4 linked regions of the Homo sapiens genome follow. The protein of the gene in region 1 purifies or fractionates together with the protein of each later gene. This does not show direct contact. Each region holds a gene or a part of one and is shown in the gene's direction. Other genes may lie near its edges.

Region 1 (5,257 bases):
GCAATAGAGCAAGACTCTGTTTCAAAACAAACAAATCCTGGAATTCATCAAAGCATGATCTAAATTCTGTTTCTTTCTTTCTTTCTTTCTTTTTTTTTTTTGAGGCAGAGTCTCACTTTGTAGCCCAGGCTGGAGTGAAGTGGTATGATCTTGGCTTACTGCAACTTCCGCCTCCCAGGTTCAAGCAATCCTCCCACCTCACTCTCCCCGTAGCTGGGACTACAGACGTGCACCACCAGACTTGGCTAATTTTTTGTATTTTTTGGTAGAGACAGGGTTTTCCCATGTTGACCAGGCTGGTCTCGAACTCCTGACCTCAGGTGATCTGCCTGCCCTGGCTCCCAAAGTGCTGGATTAAGGCATGAGCCACCGCTCCCGGCCTAAATGCTGTTTCTTCTATCAAGTCATCCCTGACTGTACCAGCTGGAAGTAATCTCTTCCTCTGAATTTCCACGCACTTTATCGGTTACTCTCTCATGTTACTTAACACATTCTGCCTCATATTACAGTTATTTGTGTTTGTGTCTTATCCCTATTAAGCTTCTTGTAGGCAGAATGCTAGCCTGTGTCATCTTAATTCTCAGAAAGCATGTTGTATGTATAGTAGATGTTCGATAAATAATTACTCAGTTAATTCTTATAATATCGCAAAAATGGAGATTACCAGTACCTATAATTAGTTTTTGAACATGCTCATCAGTAAAGTGGATGGGCCAGGTGCAGTGGCTCACTCCTGTAATCCCAACACTTTGGAGGCCAAGGCGCGCAGATGACTTGAGGCCAGGAGTTGGAGACCAGCCTGCCCAACATGGCAAAACCCTGTCTCTATTAAAAATAGAAAAATTAGCCAGGCTTGGTGGTGCTGGCCTGTGCCTGTAGTCCCAGTTACTCAGGAGGCTGAGGCATGAGAATTGCTTGAACTCAGGAGGCAGAGCTTGCAGTGAGCCAAGATGGCACCACTGCACTCCAGCCTGGACTACAGAGTGAGACACTCTCTCAAAAAATAAATAAATAAATAAATAAATAAATAAATAAATAAATAAATAAATAAAGTGGATAGTAACATACACCTTTTTGTTCCTTTTTCCCTCTCAAGTTGCTTTTGATGTTTTTACCTAAATTTTACTTGTATGGTATAGAGGTGTTTTTAACTCCAGTTGGAAACCTAAGAACTACCCTTGAGCCTGTAAACATTGTTTCTAACAGGTTTATTATTAGATATGGGGTTTCTATTAAATGCAGCATGTTTATATAGGTCTGAAGTTTTGGTCTGAGCTGTCCTTTCTTTAGGTGTTCATTTGATTTGTCTTATTTCTTCAAAACCTCATAAAATTCTAACATAGAGGACCATGACTTCCTAGAGCTATGACTCTCAACCTTTTAGGGATAGGAGGCTCTACAGGGATTACATTTACAATATGCTCCCATTTATTAATAATATTTCTCATCGCATGAGGGGATTTTCTATGGGCCATTTGAAATAACTTCTCTAGAGGATCGATGCATTCCCTGAAACTGTATGTAAAATTTTGGGGGGAGAGTCAATATTCATTATTTGAATATCAAAATATTGACAAAGGCAAAAATCCATTGCCTTGGCCGGATGCTGTGGCTCACACTTGTAATCCCAGCACTTTGGGAGGCTGAGGTGTGCGGATCACTTTAGCCCAGGAATTTGTAGCCTGGGCAACATGGCAAAACCCCGTCTCTCTTTTTTTTTTTTTTTTTTTTTTTTTTTTTTTTAATAAAAAAAGAAAAATCCATTACCTTGAAGTGGCATAAATTTTTTTCATGAGATGCATGTTTATTATTACTAATGGTGCTGTTTTACATCATGAATATATGTGCTACAAGTTGTATAGCACTTCTGAAGTACAGTTTCATTATAGTCATTTGGCCCTCATAATAGCTTGTAAGGTCATTAGATAATGCTGCATTTTATAGGAAAAGAAACGAGGTTAAGAGAGGTTGGGTAACTGAAGGTCAGGCAGATAGTAAATAGAAGAACAAAACTAGAAAATAGATTTTCTCACTCCCAGTCATTTAGTTTTTCTAATATCAGCTTGGTTCTTTGCAAATTTGGGACACTAGTTCTAAGTCTTTAGGAAAAGGAGAAACCAATGTGAAATGATCCCAAATATAAGGGAATTCCCTACTTTTCTGATGAAACTATTAAGAAGGAAAGCTTTTTGCCAATTGTATAAACTTTTTAAAATGCAGCCAAAATAGGCCGGGCGGTGGCTCATGCCTGTAATCTCAGCACTTTGGGAGGCCGAGGTGGGCAGATCACCCGAGGTCAGGCATTTGAGACCAGCCTGGCCAACCAACATGGTGAAACCCCATCTCTACTAGAAATACAAAAAAAAAAAAAAAAATTAGCCGGGCGTGGTGGCAGGCGCCTGTAATCCCAGCTACTCGGGAGGCTGAGACAGGAGAATCACTTGAACCTGGGAGGTGGAGGTTTCAGTGAGCGGAGATCTTGCCATTGCACTCCAGCCTGGGCAACAAGAGCAAAACTCCATCTTAAAAAAAAAAAAGGTAGCAAAAATAGTCAAATATGTTCTTAAAATAGTTAATAATTCACTTATATGTATATGTTTTAAATAAATAAAGTTTAATTTAGAAATAATTACTTTTTTCCATTTTCATATTAATAAAACAATTTTTTCTAGATTCTTTATGAACATCATGTCATCACTGGGGCCACTTTTTGAATCATCAGTTTGGTATTTAGCAGTTTTGAATCCATGTGTGATATATTGGCAGTTTGGGAAATTTTATCCCAAGTCATAAAAACCCATTTATATAATATTAGGATAGTTGCTTTTAAAAGGAATATTTTGTAACTGATATTCAACACATGAAATTGTGAGTTCTGGCTAGGCGTGGTGACTCATGCTTGTAATCCCAGCACTTTGGGAGGCCAAGGTGGGCTGATCACTTGAGTCCAGAAGTTCAAGACCAGCCTGGGCAACATGGTGAAACCCCACTTCTACCGAAAATACAAAAATTTGCCAGGCATGATGGCACCTGCCTATAGTCCCAGCTCCTTTCAGGGGGCTGAGGCAGGAGGATTGTTCAAGCCCAGAAGTTGAGGCTACGGTGAGCCAAGATTGCACCATTACAGTCCAGCTTAGGTGACAAAGTGAGACCCTGTCTCCAAAAAAAAAGAAAGAAATTGTGAATTCTGATCCTCAGGATAATTACTAAATCCAGTGACCTTTTGTTAGTACTACATGCAAAACTAGCGTAGTTTGAAGATAAGATGTATCCCAGACAATTATTTTAGTTCAATATAAAGTCATTGAGGGAGCACCTTTAATATGAGAGACTATGGAAGGATTCAAAACTACACAACTCTTTTTTAAAAATATATAAGTATTCCTTACATAAAAATATATTACCATGATAGCATATTTTCACACCTAAAAAATTAGCAATAATTTTTAATATTATCAATTATTCAGTCACTGTTCAAATTTGATTTATACATTGTGATTGATTGACATGTCTAAGTCTCTTAATGTGTTTGTATTTTTAGTAGAGATGGGGTTTCACCATGTTGGTCAGGCTGGTCTCGAACTCCTGACCTCAAGTAATCCACTCGCTTTGGCCTCCCAAAGTGCTGAGTTTACAGGTGTGAGCCACTGTGCCCGTGAAAGTCAGTATTCTATTACTTGTCATGTCAGCTGGTCGTGGTAGTTCACGCCTATAATCCCAGCACTTTGGGAGGCCAAGGCAGGAGGATCGCTTGAACCCAGGAGTTCAAGACCAGCCTGGGAAACATAGCGAGATACTGTCTCTACTAAAAGCTTTTTAAAAATTAGCGAGGCTTGGTGGCACACACTTGTAGTCCCAGCCACTCAGGATTTCTTGAGCCCAGGAGTTTGAGGTTGTAGTGAGCTGTGGTCTTGCCATTGCACTCCGGCATGGGTGACAGAGTGAGACCCTGTCTTAAAAATAATACTACTACTAGTCATGTCACTAAATAAATATGTCATTCTATGGAACATTTCCTGAGATGCTGAGAAAACAGATGTGAAGAAATAATTAGTACTTACTTATGCATATGTTCCTGGCAGGTGCTGTTGGCAGCAGCGGTCTGCACAAAAGCAGGAAAGGCTATTGTTTCTCGACAGTTTGTGGAAATGACCCGAACTCGGATTGAGGGCTTATTAGCAGCTTTTCCAAAGCTCATGAACACTGGAAAACAACATACGTTTGTTGAAACAGAGAGTGTAAGATATGTCTACCAGCCTATGGAGAAACTGTATATGGTACTGATCACTACCAAAAACAGCAACATTTTAGAAGATTTGGAGACCCTAAGGCTCTTCTCAAGAGTGGTAAGAGTACTGCTATAATACTGGGTTCCACTTTTTGTTTTACATTTTATGTGAAACTAGTTTTTCCTCCAAAGCAGCTGATGCTAACCAGTTTGCAGGTTCCTACTCCGCACCCCAGCGACTTATTGCTGCAGCACCTTGTTTATTCAGCAGACATTTATTGGGTGTCCTCTTAGACTATAGATGTCTCAAAAGAATATGGGAACTACTGTTTCATTTCCCAGTTCTTAAGCAGTTGTTCTAATCTGCCGTTCTAGTTCTGACACTTGTTTGGCTATGCTTTTTAGGTAATGTTTTTTAGGTAAGACTTACTGATCCAGAGACAGACACACACACACACACCCCTCTTCTAAGACTTTATGCCAAAGTCTTGCTTAAAATGAAGACTTAGGTAAGACTTACTGATCCAGAGACAGACAGACAGACAGACACACACACACACACACACACACACACACCTTTTAAGACTTTATGCCAAAGTCTTGCTTAAAATGAAGGCTAAGGCCAGGTGCGGTAGCATGTGCCTGTAGTCCAAGCTACTCAGGAGGCTGAGGCAGAAGGATTGCTTGAGGCCAGGAGTTCAAGTGCACAGGCATTATACTTTAGTGTGGGCAACACAGCAAGACCCTGATTCTTTTTTTTTTAAAGACGGAGTCTCGCTCTTGCCCTGGCTGGAGTGCAGTGGTGCAATGGTGCAATCTCGGCTCACTGCAACCTCCACCTCCCAGGTTCAAGCAATTTTCTGGCCTCAGCCTCCCGAGTAGTTGAGATTACAGATGTGCATCGCCATGCCTGGCTAATTTTTGTACGGGGTTTCACCATGTTGGCCAGGCTGGTCTCGAACTCCTGACCTCAGGTGATCTGCCTATCTTGGCGTCCCGAAGTGCTGGGATTACAGGCATGAGCCGCTG
Region 2 (4,824 bases), on another chromosome or scaffold:
ACCTGAGGACTGAACATATGAGTTGCATTGACTGGAGGAAGAACATGCTAGAAAGAACAGCATTTGCAAAGACCCTGAGCCAGGAAGAAACTTGATGCTTTTGTGGAAGTGAGAGGGGGCCTGTACTGCTGGAGTTCTCTGTGTTTGGAAGAGCGGGTGGTATGAGGTGGGCAGGGGCAGCCAGGAACGCGAGGGCTGTGGGAACGCTATGGTCACCATCCTCAGAGTCCTAGAACAGTTTAAGCGGAGAAAGAATATGGTCTTTTTTTTTTTTTTTTTTTTGAGACAGAGTCTTGCTCTATCCCCCAGGCTGGAGTGCAGTGACACACAATCTCGGCTCACTGCAATCTCGGCTCACTGCAACCTCCGCCTCCTGGGTTCAAGCGATTCTCATGCCTCAGCCTCCCGAGTAGCTGGGATTACAGGCACCCACCACCATACCTGGCTAATTTTTGTATTTTTACTAGAGACAGGGTTTCACCACGTTGGCCAGGCTGGTTTCAAACTCCTGACCTCAGGTGATCCACCCACCTCGGCCTCCCAAAGTGCTGGGATTATAGGTGTGAGCCACCACGCCCGGCCTAGAATGTGGTCATTATTACGTGTATTTGTAAAGTGTCCCTCTGGCTAGGGCTCAGAGGCAGTGACCTGTCTAGGGTCACAGAACCAGAGATGGATCCAGGCTGAGTCCAGGCCGAGACTCTGGCACCAGTCTGGGGTCCTCCCACACCCCTTCCTCACACTTAACACAGACGTGTAGTCACATGCGCCCAGACACGACCACAGCCTCCTGTCCTGGATACCAATTTCATAAGTGACCGATTTGTAAATGAAAAAGCTGATGTATTAATTATTAATTGGAAAGAGACTGCTCTGGAAACCCACGTTCTTTGCCATTCTCTTACCTGGGGGAACCCAGTGGGCCTTCAGAGGGCACACACTGGTCTGGAGTTTCAGTGAAGGGGTGTGTGGTTTGAGTGTATCTCATCAAGGGTCCGAGGGCACTGGCTGAGGTCCCTTCTCTGAAGCATCGCTCTCCCATGCCGGAGGCTGGCAGGTCCCATTTCCTAGTTCCTCCTTTGAGACTCAGTAGAGTCCACTAGAATCCCACCGTTTTGTTACTGGGGTCAGTCTCACTGACCCCACACAGGGACCTCCCATGTCTTCCAGATAAACCCTGGCCTCACATCTGCTGTGCAGTGGGCCCTTCCCTGTCCCTCAAGGAAGCTTCCTTCAGATTATAGGCAGGATGGCTACAGCCCGTGTCATCATTTCGTTTGGCTGAAACCTCCTTTTCAGAACAGTGGTCCCTTCGACAGCCTTCCATTTGGGCCCATCAAACACATTACCAAGAATTCAGCACTTCCGACAGTCAGACACCAGTCCAGGGGGCTCTCTCAGGTGTCGTCTAAGCCTGGGATCTCCAGCAAGTTATTTCAAAAAAAGCCTCTGGGGTTTTTGTTTTGTTTTGAGGCAGGGTCTTGCCCTGTCACTCAGGCTGGAGTGTAGTGGTGCGATCTCGGCTCATTGCAGCCTTGAACTCCTGGGCTCAAGTGATCTTCCTGCCTCGGCCTGCAAGTAGCTGGGACCGCAGGTGCACAGCTAATTTTTATTTATTTTATTCTTATTTTTATTTTTTGAGACAGTCTCGCTCTGTCTTGTAGGCTGGAGTGCAGTGGCACGATCTCGGCTCATTGCATCCTTGTCTCCCAGGTTCAACCAATTCTTGTGCCTCAGCCTCCCGAGTAACTGGAATTACAGGTGTGCACTACCATGCCTGGCTAATTTTTGTATTTTTAGTAGAGACAGGGTTTCGCCATGTTGGCCAGGCTGGTCTTGAACTCCTGACCTCAAGTGATCTGCCTGCCTCAGCCTCCCAAAGTGTTGGGATTACAGGCGTGAGCCACTGCACCCAGCCACTGCGCCTAGGCCAGGGCCTGCCTCTGCACTGCTGGCCTCATCTGGGGACTTGAGTGCCACAGGCACTCTTGGCAATTATTTAGACCAGTCCCTTCTCCAGATAAGGAAACTGAGACCCAGACCAGGGCAGGGACTTGTTCCAGACCCACCACCCTGGCCAGGTGTCACAGAACTGGGGCTCCATCTCTGCTCCCCTGTCCTTCTCTCTGACACTGCTAGTGGAGACTGGGCCAACATCCAAGCTCTTTGGAATTATTTTTAGAAGGTCTCTAAGAGAGGGCCTGTCTCCAGTGCCAGTATTTCAGAGTCAGAAGGGAGGCTGATGGGGTGGGGAGGGCTTGGTGAGGGTCACCTGGACACAAACCATGTTGCTAACGCCCAATTATTGATTTGTCTCAATAGGACATCAACCAGGAAGTTTATAATTTCCTGGCAACTGCAGGTGCCAAATATGGCGTGGGCTTCTGGAAGCCTGGATCTGGAATCATTCACCAGGTAAAGCTGGGCTCAGTCTGCCGTCCCAAGGGCCCAAGCCAGAGAAGTATGTTCCAGGCCTATGGGGGGAGGGGGTTTGAGGCCCAGGGGGGCTGAGGGGAACTGGATGACATATCCATCAGCTCTTATGCTCTTCCTCCTTTGTTTTGAAACTGATTTTCATTATGTCATTATACGTGCTCATTTTCTGGGTGAGAAGTTAAAATAATACCTCCTAACCACCCAGGTAACCAGCATTTTAAGTGCGACATGTTTCTTTCCACATTGTCTTCTGGGTGTGTACTCAAGCATCTCTATTCCCATAAACTCTCATACAGAACATGGTATTATTTTGTTTTTTTTCACAAGTGTCACCCCTTGTGGCATGCATCACTGACATTTGATGAGCCCATACTGTGTCTCAGGTACTAGGCTGAGCACTTGAAAGATATTTGCCATGCCCTGTGAGGTAGGTGCTTTTACTATCCACACCCTACAGAGGAGGCAGCTGAGGCACAGAGATGTTAACCTTCTTGCCCAGGGACACCTAGCTGGCTTACTGTGGAGCCAGGCCTGTGGGCAGGAGGGCTGGTCTGGAGCGAGTGCCCCATGCCACCGTGCTGCTCTGCCGCCTCCCTCGCCCCCAGAGCTCTTTCTGCTTCTGCACGTGGCGCTCCTCGGATTTCTTTTTGGCTCCTTCATGGTGTTCTGTAGGGTGAAGGTACCATAGGTCATGTGGCCATGTCAGCCGGGGGCTCCTCTGAGGTGTCCCAAGGATGGATCTTCTTTTGGTGGACAGTTGGACAGTTTTGTCTCTGGAAGTGCAAGTGTGAACGTGTATATCCTGGGGAGGTGGGTGCTTCCCTTTCTTCCAAGGGCACTGTTAGGGACCACTGACCTAGTTTGTGTCCATTTACATCCACCCTGTATGTATGAAACCTGCCTCTTCGCACCTTTGCAAGGTGGCCCTTCCCCCCACCTCCATCCCAGACCTCACTGTCCTGGCCTCCTCAGGATGTGCTGAGTCAGGCTGTAATCTGACGCCGCATGGGCTCCCAGCACCGCCCCGCTCTGAAACCAGAGCCAGCAGGGGATCACTCCTCTGCCCTGCCCAACCATCACTCTTGCCAGGAAGGGGCTGCGTGGAATGGCCGTTTGCAGCGGCCTGTGGGGACTAGAAAGCCCCTCTCTGCAGCAGGGTTAGGGAGTCAGGTGGACCCAGTCTTGGCCTTCTGTTACAAAGGGCACTGCAATGCAGGTGTCTCCCTTTCTACCTCAGTACAAATGCCCAGGCCTTTATGGCAGCTCCTGGGCCAAAGTTTGGAGCCGTGAGTGATGGCAGCTCACATCTGCCACCGGCTAGCTGCTAAGCATACAGCAGCTCGTGTGTTTGTTTCTTTAAAAAGAAAATGCCCAGGGGCCATGGGAGTACTTTGCAGCTTTACTTTCTTCCCGCCTTGATGTCACGTCTTCAGCAGCCTCAGTCCATTAGGTCCAACCCAAACCTGAACCCCTTTCCCTCTGGGAAGTGCCCTGGCCCCACTTGGCCCGCAGACCTTCCTCCACATCACAGCTTTCTGGTTCCTCTGTGGAGCCTCCCCGGCCCTCCCCGTGCCTGGCACAGTGGCTTCCAGTGGATCCTCTGTGGGATCTCTTCACATTATGTTCCAGCATCTGCCAAGTGCTTTCTGCACTGGATCATGTGCTCTGTGGGGACAGGGACTGTGGCTTATTTATTCCTCTCTAGCTCTGGGTTTGGGACCAGGTCAGTACAGAGCAGGTCCTTAATGTATGTGTGTGTTGTGTGGATGGATGGCTGAATTTCCAGGTGTAGTTCTAGGCATTAGTCCTTCTTCCCAGCCCTCACCCCCATCTGTCCAGCCACACCCACAGACCGGGGAGCTCACTGTCACGGCCAGCGTCATCGTGACATCTTCTGCAGTCCTCATGTCTGCCTGACCTCTCCCCCTGGATGTGGACCACAAGTGTCTACACCGTGTGGACCACAAGTGTCTACACCGTGTAGACCACCCCGAATTCTGTGTGCCCAGCCTTCGTGGATCCAACTTTTACAAGCTTGAGGCTCTTTAGGGATGCACTAGTCTTAAATCCTTGTACGTGGCAGCATTGGCCAGTTCTTCGCAGCCAGGTCTTCCCTCTGCATCCCCAAGAGATGAGACCTTTGGACCTTAGAGTCTGCTAGGCAGATGCTTGTCCTGAGGCAGAGGCCCTGGGGTTTCTGTAAGATTTCTGGGAGCACTGGTGGGTCCTGAGAGTTCACAGAGCCTGTCACACCTCTCATGTGTTCTTCCCCACATCCCCGGGTGGGGCACTAACTCCATCTGACTGATGAGCGGCAGAACCTCAGGTGAAGGCTCTTGCTGCAAAACAATAAATAAAAATGTTGCTTCCCGCAGGCACTATTCTGTG
Region 3 (4,824 bases), on another chromosome or scaffold:
CACTTTCAACATAATTGAACAGTTTTTCTGGATCTTAAAAAAATAAAATCATAGTTGAAGGCATTGTTGATTCTTTTTTAAATAAAAGGAACAAATAATATAATTCAGCCTGACTCCAACTCCAGAAATTTTTATTGACTGTGAAGATTAACTTTGTCTTAAAGTATATAGCTCTATTATATGTTATGGTTCAAATAAATAAAAATAACATTTTTTTAAATTGAAATTTTAACTGTATTTTTGAAAAGTGATGTTTTCTTTAGACTAGACACTGTCATTAAAATTTGACTAAGAAAAAAACAAGATACATATTAATTTTATGTAAACAGAAACAAAACAGTTTACTGAATTTACTTTTTTTGGTGGGGAATATCTTGATTTAGGTTTTGCAAATTGATGATGTCACAATAAAAATAAGTGCTTTAAAGGCAATCTTTGACCAACTGATGACGTTCGGGATTGAACCATTTAAAACTAAAAAAATCAAAACACTTCATTGTGAAGGTACAGAAATAAACAGTGATGATGAGCAAGAATCAAAAGAAGTTGAAGAGACTGCTACAGCTAAGAATGTTCTGAAACTCCTTTCTGATTTCTTAGATAGTGAGGTAAGAAATAATCCAGTCCTGTGATTATGAAATGTCATTTTCAGCATGTATTTGTTTATTATTATTATTTTTTAAATTTATTATAGTTTAAGTCCTGTGATACATGTGCAGAACATACAGGTTTGTTACATAGGTATACATGTGCCATGGTGGTTTGCTGCACCCATCAACCCATCTACATTAGGTATTTCTCCTAACGCTATCCCTCCCCTACCCCCCTATCCCCTGATAGGTCCCAGTGTGTGATGTTCCTCTCCCCTATGCTCTTTATATCTTATTTTTCCTACTGGATTTTAAATTTGGATAGACATTTTTTATTTTACTTTTTAAATATCTTAATTAAATCCTAACTTTCACTATCATACCTAATTTCTCACTATCAAATTGTATATGCAAAGAAATGAAGTATAAACAAAAATGAAGTGATTAAAGTGGGTTGTTATTTTTTATTTCTTTATGTTGTATTTGTGATATAGAGACTCTAAGATTTATCCCCAAGACTTTTAAGAAATAGTTTAGAATAATTTTATATTGGGTGGGTAGAAGATGTAAGATAGGGTATGGGATTGGATCTCTTTTAAGTACTCTTGAACTACTATTTTTGTAGCACACATGTAAACCAACTGATTAAAAATTTTTTATACTGATTGTAGTTTTTCATTGAGTTAGAAGTGATATAACAAAACTTAATTTTATTTTTTTGAGATAGGGTCTTGCTCTGTCATCAGGCTGGAGTGCAGTGGCGTGATCATAGTCCACTGACCCCTCACCTGCTGGGTTCAAGCAATCCTCCTGAATAGCTGGAATGACAGGCATGTGCCACCATGCCCGCTGATTTTTAAATTTTTTGTAGAGACAGGGTCTCGCTCTGTTGCCCAGGCTGGTCTTGAACTCCTGGCCTCAAGTGATCCTCCTGCCTCAGCCTCCCAGAGTGCTGGGATTACAAGTGTGAGCCCTCGTGCCTGGCCCAAACTAATACTGTTAATGTGAACAATTCATTGGCATTTAGTACATTCAAAATGAAAGGCAACTACCACCTTTATCATCTAATTTAAAACATTGTCATCATCCCAAAAGGAAACTACTCATTAAGCAGTTGCTCCTCATTCCCCCTTCTGCCAGCCCTGACAGCAACCAATCCGCAGTCTGTTTCTATGGATTTAACTGTTCTGGATATTTTGTGTAAGTGGAATCATACAGTATGTGACCTCTGTTTAGCTTTTTAAATTTAGCATAACATTTTCGAGATTCATCCACATGGTATCTTGTATCAGTACTCCGTTCCTTTTTGTAGCCGAATACTCCATTTTATGTATATATGGTGATTTGTTTATGCATTCATCCATTGAAGGACAGTTGGGCTGTTTCTACCTTTTGGCTATTGTGAATAGTGCTGCTTACTATGAACATGGCATGTATATGTATTTGTTTGAGTAGCTGTTTCAATTCTTTTGGGTATCTGTATACCTAGGAATTGTGTTGCTCAGTCATTTAACTTTTTGGGAACTTGACAAACTGTTTTCCACAGTGATTGAACCATTTTAAATTTCCATCTTCAGTGTAGAAGGTTTTCCATTTCTCCACATCCTTATTGACACTTAGGTTCCATTTTTTAAAACATTATAGCTATCCTAGTATATATGAAGTGCTACTTCATTGTGGTTTTGATTTGCATTTCCTTAATGACTAGTGATGTTGAGTATCTTTTCATCTGCTTCTTGGCCATTTGTATATTTTGTTTGGATAAATGTCTGTTCAAGTCCTTTGCCCATTTTTAAGTTGGGTTGGTTGTCTTTATAGAGTTCTTTATATAGTTTGGGTAGTAGATCCTTATCAGGTATAATTTGTAACTTTTATTTTACAGGTTGTCTTTTTACTTTCTTGTTAATATACTTAGATGTATTAAACATTTTTAATTTTGGAGATACACTCATTTTTTTCTTTTGTTGCTTCTGCTTTTGGTGTCCTATCTAAGAATCCAGTGCTAAGTCTAAGTCATGAAGATTTATCCCTGTTTTCTTCTGAGAGTTTTCTGGCTTTAGCTTTTATATTTAGGCTGTTGATGCATTTTCAGTTAATATTTGTATATGGTCTAAGGTCCAGCTTCATTGTTTTGCCTGTGTACATCCAGTTGTCTTTTCCTTTGTCTTCTCTAGACTTTTGTTTACTTTTTCTAGGAATGCCTTCTGCTTCAACACCTTCTGTTCACATTCTATCCATTATTCAGACAAATTGCACTCCTACATATGGAGCTTTTGCTTATAGATAGGCACCTTCCTCTAATACCAGGGGCCAGGGTTTTCTATGTCTTAGAAACCCTAAGCATTTAAATATATGTTTTGCTCTTTTTTTCCAACAGTTATAAAAGGCCTTTTGGTTCTTCTAAAAAGTTTTAAGATAATTGAATTTTTCATGGCTAGACTAAGCATTTGTCTAGTCTCCTAGTCTTTTAGATTTGTCTAAAATTGTTATTCTAGCTTTGAAGAAACAGTCTTTTTATTTGCCTTTAAAGAATTTGTAATAACTCGAATGGTTTTTGGATGGTTCGTGTAAAAATACTGTAGGACAGGCTACATTGAGAGGCTTAAAAAGGAGATACAAATAAATTTCTTCTAATGAATGTCATCTTTGTTAGGTATCTGAACTTAGGACTGGAGCTGCAGAAGGACTAGCCAAGCTGATGTTCTCTGGGCTTTTGGTCAGCAGCAGGATTCTTTCTCGTCTTATTTTGTTATGGTACAATCCTGTGACTGAAGAGGATGTTCAACTTCGACATTGCCTAGGCGTGTTCTTCCCCGTGTTTGCTTATGCAAGCAGGTATTGAGTCATACTGATAAATCAAAAATCTGACTTGACATCAAATTCAAGTCCCCCATGAATTATATCTATAATGATATTTTGTTGTTGATACTTTTTCTGTCTTTAGTAGATAAATGATGAAATGACAAGAACGATACAGATTTTATCTATCTGAATTTTTGGCTCTTTCCTAGATGAAAATGCACTTAATGAGTGAATTTCCTACATAGTAGTTTTGAATTTCATACTTTTTCTCTCATCAAATAATGTTCTGCCAACATACTTTGAATTTGTTTCTCAATAGGACTAATCAGGAATGCTTTGAAGAAGCTTTTCTTCCAACCCTGCAAACACTGGCCAATGCCCCTGCATCTTCTCCTTTAGCTGAAATTGATATCACAAATGTTGCTGAGTTACTTGTAGATTTGACAAGACCAAGTGGATTAAATCCTCAGGCCAAGACTTCCCAAGATTATCAGGTGAGTGACTGTGGTAACTGCATGCAGATCACTGTTTTGGTAAAATAATCTCTCTCAAAGATCCCTTGAAATACTGAGGAACTGCATTTTGGTCTTTAGACTTCTGTCTCAAGCATATACCACAAAGCACGAAAGAAACATGACCTTGGGAAATGTGGAGAAATCATATGAAAACAGAAGTAATCAATGCTAACATTTTTGCTACTGAAAAGAAATTACTAAAAATCCACCACCCACACCATGCCCACCTAGTACTGACTGTTAATCTGAAGTAATAACCTATGTTATCTAGGACTCACAGAGTCTTCAAATGTTGGCTTACCTGCTATGCTTCTGGCACAAGAAAGGAGAATTCAAAGACTAGAACTCACCTCAAGCTTTTTTGGCTTTTAATTCAAAGAAGATAAATCAATTGCACACTGACTCACAGACTGAACTTAAGCTGGGTTGTTTTAATCCTTTAATGGCATTTGGTCAAACTTGTTACCATTTTTGAAATTTAATGTATTAGTGATTTCAGATGCTAACAGATTAAGTTGAAAGTATTACTCTATTTTATTTGATATTTAGTGATAAGCTACTCTGTTCAATTCATATGTTGTATATTATTGGAAAGATAAGATTACAAAGGATATTAGGCAAAATTAGGTAAGGGTCAGTAATAGAGCTATTAAGCACTTCATGACTTGAGACAAGGGCAAGAGTCATGTGGTAGGAATGATGAGTACAGCATTAGTTTTAAAACTCATTGACCAAAATTCAGTTAGGCCTTGTTGGTATTTGGGGAGTGGTTTGGGTAGAGGAAGGATGTTTTAGTAAAGGTGATATATGTAGATGGTTATGCAAATATTGGGGAACTGTAGAAAGATGACTTTGGCTAAGGATCCTGAATAGGACTGTTAGGGCACAACACTGGGGGTAGATTATAGATTGCTTTA
Region 4 (4,824 bases), on another chromosome or scaffold:
TCCTGCCTCAGCTTTCCGAGTCGCTGGGATTACAGGCACCCACCACCACGCCCAGCTAAGTTTCTGTATTTTTAGTAGAGATGGGGTTTCACCATGTTGGCCAGGCTGGTCTCAAACTCCTGACCTCGTGATCCACCCGGCTAAGGCAGGAGAATGGCGTGAACCCGGGAGGTGGAGCTTGCAGGGAGCCGAGATGGCACCACTGCAGTCACCACTGCAGTCCAGCCTGGGCGACAGAGAGAGACTCCGTCTCAAAAAAAAAAAAAAAAAAAATCAAAAGCATGTGTTTACCCTTATTAATGATTTTTATTTAAAGTCATTGCATAGCAATATTCATTTAATGTTTATTTTTTAAAAAAATTAATGATTGAGAACTTAAATTTATAAGTAGGGTAAATTACTCACAAATTTAAGTAAAATTTGAAGCCAATATGATGGCTTCTTACATATTCTTTCGAAAACTTCATGCACATGAAAGTAGATAAAAATGGCACAGTCTTTTCCATTTAAGAAAAAGATCATATCACATATAGATTTAGGTTTTGGATGTCTTTTCATATCAGGACATAAATAACTGCCCCCATTCTTATTAATTTGGGTGCATAAATTTCCCTTTTGTGGGTTGAAGCCCTGTAACGATTTAACCAATTCCTTGGGTTTATATTTAGATTGTCCTCGTCCATAAGTGTAATTGCTGAATTGCAAGCTTTATATGCATTTAAAAATTTAACCCGGCAAGGTGCGGTGGCTCACGCCTGTAATCCCAGCACTTTGGGAGGCCGAGGCAGGTGAATCACAAGGTCAGGAGTTCGAGACCAGCCTGGCCAACATGGCGAAACCTCGTCTCTACTAAAAACACAAAAAATTAGCTGGGTGTGGTGGCAGGTGCCTGTAATCCCAGCTACTTGGGAAGCTGAGGCAGGAGAATCTCTTGAACCTGGGAGGGGGAGGTTGCAGTGAGCTGAGATCTCACCACTGCATTCCAGCCTGGGTGACAGTGCAAGACTCCGTCTCAAAAACAAAAACAAAAACAAAAACAAAAAATTTAACCCTTCCTAAATTGACTTTCCAAAGAGGTTCTACCACTTTGCAGTTCCACCGTGGAGATCAGCACTCGTTTTCCCATGCTTTGCCTTCATGGGTATCAGATTTTCCAATACTTGCCAATGTGCTAGGTGAAGAATGGTACCTCAGTTTCCTTGGTGCATTTTTAACTGTGAAGTTGAATGCCTCATCATGTTTCTCTGCCATGTGCTTGCCATCTGATCATGCACTGGTCTGGCTGTCAGAGCATGAAAGGCTATGGTTTGTTTCACTGTTAATTAATTTTCATTTTCATTTTCATTTAACTTTAATTTTATTTATTTATTGTTTTTGAGATAGGCTCTCATTCTGTTGCCCAGTGTGGAATGCAGTGGTGCAATCTTGGTTTACTGCAGCCTCGACCTCCTGGGCTCAAATGACCCTCCTACTTCAGCCTCCTGAGTAGCTGGGACTACAGGCACACACCACCAGGTAGCTGGGACTACAAGTGCACACCACCATGCCTGGCTAATTTTGTTTATTTTTGGTAGAGACAAGGTCTCACTGTGTTGCCCAGGCTGGTCTGGACCTCCTGGACTGAAGTGATCCTCCCACCTCTGCCTCCCAAAGTGCTGAGATTACAGGTGTGAGCCCCCATGCCCTGCCCAATTAATTTTTAAAGATTTTTTTTTCTAGCCAGGTGTGGGGGCTCACACCTGTAATCTCAGCACTTTGAGAGGCCAAGAAGGGAGGATCACTTGAGAGAAAGTTCAAGAGTGGCCTGGGCAACATAGCAAGACCCCATCTCTACAAAAAATAAAAAATTTAGCTGGGTGCGGTGACGTGTACCTGTAGTCCTAGCTACTTGGAAGGCTGAGGTGAGAGGATTGCTTCCACCCAGGAGTATGAGGCTGCAGTGAGCTATGATCATGCTACTGCACTACAGCCTGGGTGGCAGAGCAAGACCCTATCTCTATTTAAAAAAACAAAACAAAACAAAAAAACAAAAAAACTTTTTCCCCAGAAATTAATCAAATTGGAAAAAAGCAAGTTCAAGAATAAAAACGCAGCTGAGGTAGAGCAGTCTTACTCTCCTTTGCTCCTTTTCCTTTCCAAATTAATGAACCATCTTTAAATTTATTTGCTTGGAGGATGACCTACTTCTTTAGCTATCACTTTTAAAATTTCTTCTCTTGGAACAATCTAAAATCATTTAGTTGCCAGAAATTACTTTGTGGTCATGATCCGTGAAATGTTGAGATCAGGGATTGGAAGCAGCAGAAATCCACCTCTTGGGAAAACAATAGAGTGAAGGCTTACCCGGGATCCTCTCCCGTTCTCACGGCAAACAGCCTGGCTCTGTTAACTGGATGGTATACATGGATTTTCTGAGAAAAATGTAGGTGTTCAAAGCACAGGAAACCATCTGGGACACCGGGACACCATTAGGCACCTCTTAATACAAGTATTCATTTCAGGTTCAAAGCTTTTTGTCTTCCCTGTGATTTCTCTGTGATGTTTTTTAAATGGGGGAAACCCTGTAGTTTCTCTCTGCCTAATCTTAATCCCAGTTGTAGTAGCATGTCAGTTTCATGTTTGATTTCAAAACGAAATAAACCAAAATTTAAGAAGGAGAGATTACTGCAGTTTATTGGCTGACCATCTATTTGTTATATGCAAATACTGCAAACTGGGAGTATTGAAGGATTAAATTTTTCCTAATTCCCAAACCTGGTGGTGCTATTGAATCACCTAGAGAGCTTTTCAAAGACACCCCTACACCTCATCCTGGATTTATTGAATTAGAATCCCAGGCAATCTCAGGGTCTGGGATTCTGTGATTTTTTTTTTTTTTTTTGAGAGACAGGGTCTCACTGTGTTTCCCAGGCTAGTCTTGAACTCCCGGACTCAGGCCATCCTTTGGCCTCAGCCTCCTGAGTAACTGAGACTACCAGCTCCTGCCACTGTGCTGGGATTCTGTAGTCTTAAAATGCTCATCAGATATTCTAATGTGTGGGGTGTGGGCTCCATTACCTTAAGGGAGGGGAAGGAGTAGGCGTAAGAGCTGAATAAGGGCCAGGGAGAGGTTCAGGTCTAGGTGACACTGGGTGATAGCATGTGCAGATTTCACTGAGATTGGAACTTGTGTGGGTGAGAGGGACGGTTTCACATGATGAAAGAGTAGCATTTTCCTTCACACATCTGGAGGATAAAATAAAGGAAAATATTTCTTCCACATAATTTCATTCCTTTGTTTGACTATATTAAAAAGTGGGTTGCTGGCCGGGCATGGTGGCTCACGCCTGTAATCCCAGCACTTTGGGAGGCCGAGGCGGGCGGATCACGAGGTCAGCAGTTCAAGACCAGCCTGGCCAACATGGTGAAACCCCATCTCTATTAAAAATACAAAAATTAGCCAGTATGGTGGTGTGTACCTGTAATCCCAGCTACTCGGGAGGCTGAGGCAGGAGAATCGCTTGAACCTAGGAGGTGGAGGTTGCAGTGAGCCGAGACCGCATCATTGCACTCCAGCCTGGGCGACAGAGCAAGACTCTGTCTCAAAAAAAAAAAAGTGGATTGCTAACGGAGGCTTTTTAAAATAGATTGTGCCATTCAAGGTAAGTAGGTGTTCAGTGAAATGCCCGTATCCCTACTGAGCCAGAAGCTGTGACTTTTCGGTGTTCCCCTTCCATCTCATTGCCTCCTAAGCCCTCTTCCCTTATTTATCATTTTAAAACTTCCCTTGTGCTGAATAAGTAGACAGTAGCTAAGGGCTTAGTTTATGGCATTTGACTGGTCCAAAAATCTGTAAAGAAATTTTAAAACCTACCAAGTTGTTGAAGAATAGAGTTCTGGCTTTCTCAGCCACTTACTATTCAATCTTGATTTCATAAATATTTCTGTTTTAATTTCTTCCATTTATTTTTTAATATAATAGAGACAAGGTCTCACTGTGTTGCCAAGGCTGGTCTCGAACTCCTGAGCTCAAGTGATCCTCTTGCCTTGGCCTCCCAAAGTGCTGGGTTACAGGGTGAGCCACCTACGCCTGGCCATTTCATAAATACTTCTTTACTAGCTTCTGTACTCCAGGAACTGTGCTAGGAACTGGGGAAACAGAAGTTCAGTTCTAAAAAAGTTAAAGTTCTCTCTTTCATATATTTAGATCTTTATTCCACTAGCTACTGATGATGTCTAGAAGGAGAAATCTTAAATTCATTTTTATATGGGTTACCTATTGCTCCAGTACCATTGATTAAAAAGTTACCTCTTGTTAAAACTCAAGTTTCCATATATGCATAAACCTGTTTATTGATTTCCTTTTACTTTTAAATTTTTTCTGCTGTGTCTATTTGTGCAATAAACTGAAAGCATTGTGGGAGTGGCTAAACATCTGATCAATTATAATAGCAAGCCCATGGTTTAAAATAGTTTTATATTCTACATCTCAAGTGTTACCCTTGTCTCTTTCATGGCTATGGTGAGTTCATACATACATAAATACCAACATGTGGCTCGTGGGCATGGTGGCTCACACCTGGTGGGCATGGTGGCTCATGCCTATAATCCCAGCACTTCGGGAGGTGAGGGTGGGAGGATCACTTGAGCCTAGGAGTTCAAGATCAGCCTAGGCAGCATAGTGAGACCCCACTGCTACAAAAAATTTAAAAATTAGCCGGGTGTGGTGGCACATGCCTGTAATTCCAGCTAGTTGGGAGGCTGAGGTGGGAAGATCACTAGAGCCCGGGAAGTTGAAGCTGCAGAGACCCTGTCTCAAAAAAATAAATAAATAGGCTGGGCGTT

Evidence for each region. The genes of interacting proteins can lie anywhere in the genome.
Region 2: the proteins of ARCN1 (region 1) and ACO2 fractionate together in Homo sapiens (co-fractionation; one large-scale study listed by BioGRID). This does not show direct contact.
Region 3: the proteins of ARCN1 (region 1) and NCAPG fractionate together in Homo sapiens (co-fractionation; one large-scale study listed by BioGRID). This does not show direct contact.
Region 4: the proteins of ARCN1 (region 1) and AKAP12 fractionate together in Homo sapiens (co-fractionation; one large-scale study listed by BioGRID). This does not show direct contact.

What each region holds. Positions count from the first base shown.
Region 1 is NC_000011.10:118,577,164-118,582,420, forward strand, and holds part of ARCN1 (coatomer subunit delta), read left to right. Parts: intron 1-4,082; coding exon 4,083-4,346; intron 4,347-5,257. UniProt on the Homo sapiens protein: Component of the coatomer, a cytosolic protein complex that binds to dilysine motifs and reversibly associates with Golgi non-clathrin-coated vesicles, which further mediate biosynthetic protein transport from the ER, via the Golgi up to the trans Golgi network.
Region 2 is NC_000022.11:41,509,554-41,514,377, forward strand, and holds part of ACO2 (aconitate hydratase, mitochondrial precursor), read left to right. Parts: intron 1-2,322; coding exon 2,323-2,415; intron 2,416-4,824. UniProt on the Homo sapiens protein: Catalyzes the isomerization of citrate to isocitrate via cis-aconitate.
Region 3 is NC_000004.12:17,833,916-17,838,739, forward strand, and holds part of NCAPG (condensin complex subunit 3), read left to right. Parts: intron 1-383; coding exon 384-608; intron 609-3,243; coding exon 3,244-3,425; intron 3,426-3,711; coding exon 3,712-3,886; intron 3,887-4,824. UniProt on the Homo sapiens protein: Regulatory subunit of the condensin complex, a complex required for conversion of interphase chromatin into mitotic-like condense chromosomes.
Region 4 is NC_000006.12:151,245,404-151,250,227, forward strand, and holds part of AKAP12 (A-kinase anchor protein 12), read left to right. Parts: intron 1-4,824. UniProt on the Homo sapiens protein: Anchoring protein that mediates the subcellular compartmentation of protein kinase A (PKA) and protein kinase C (PKC).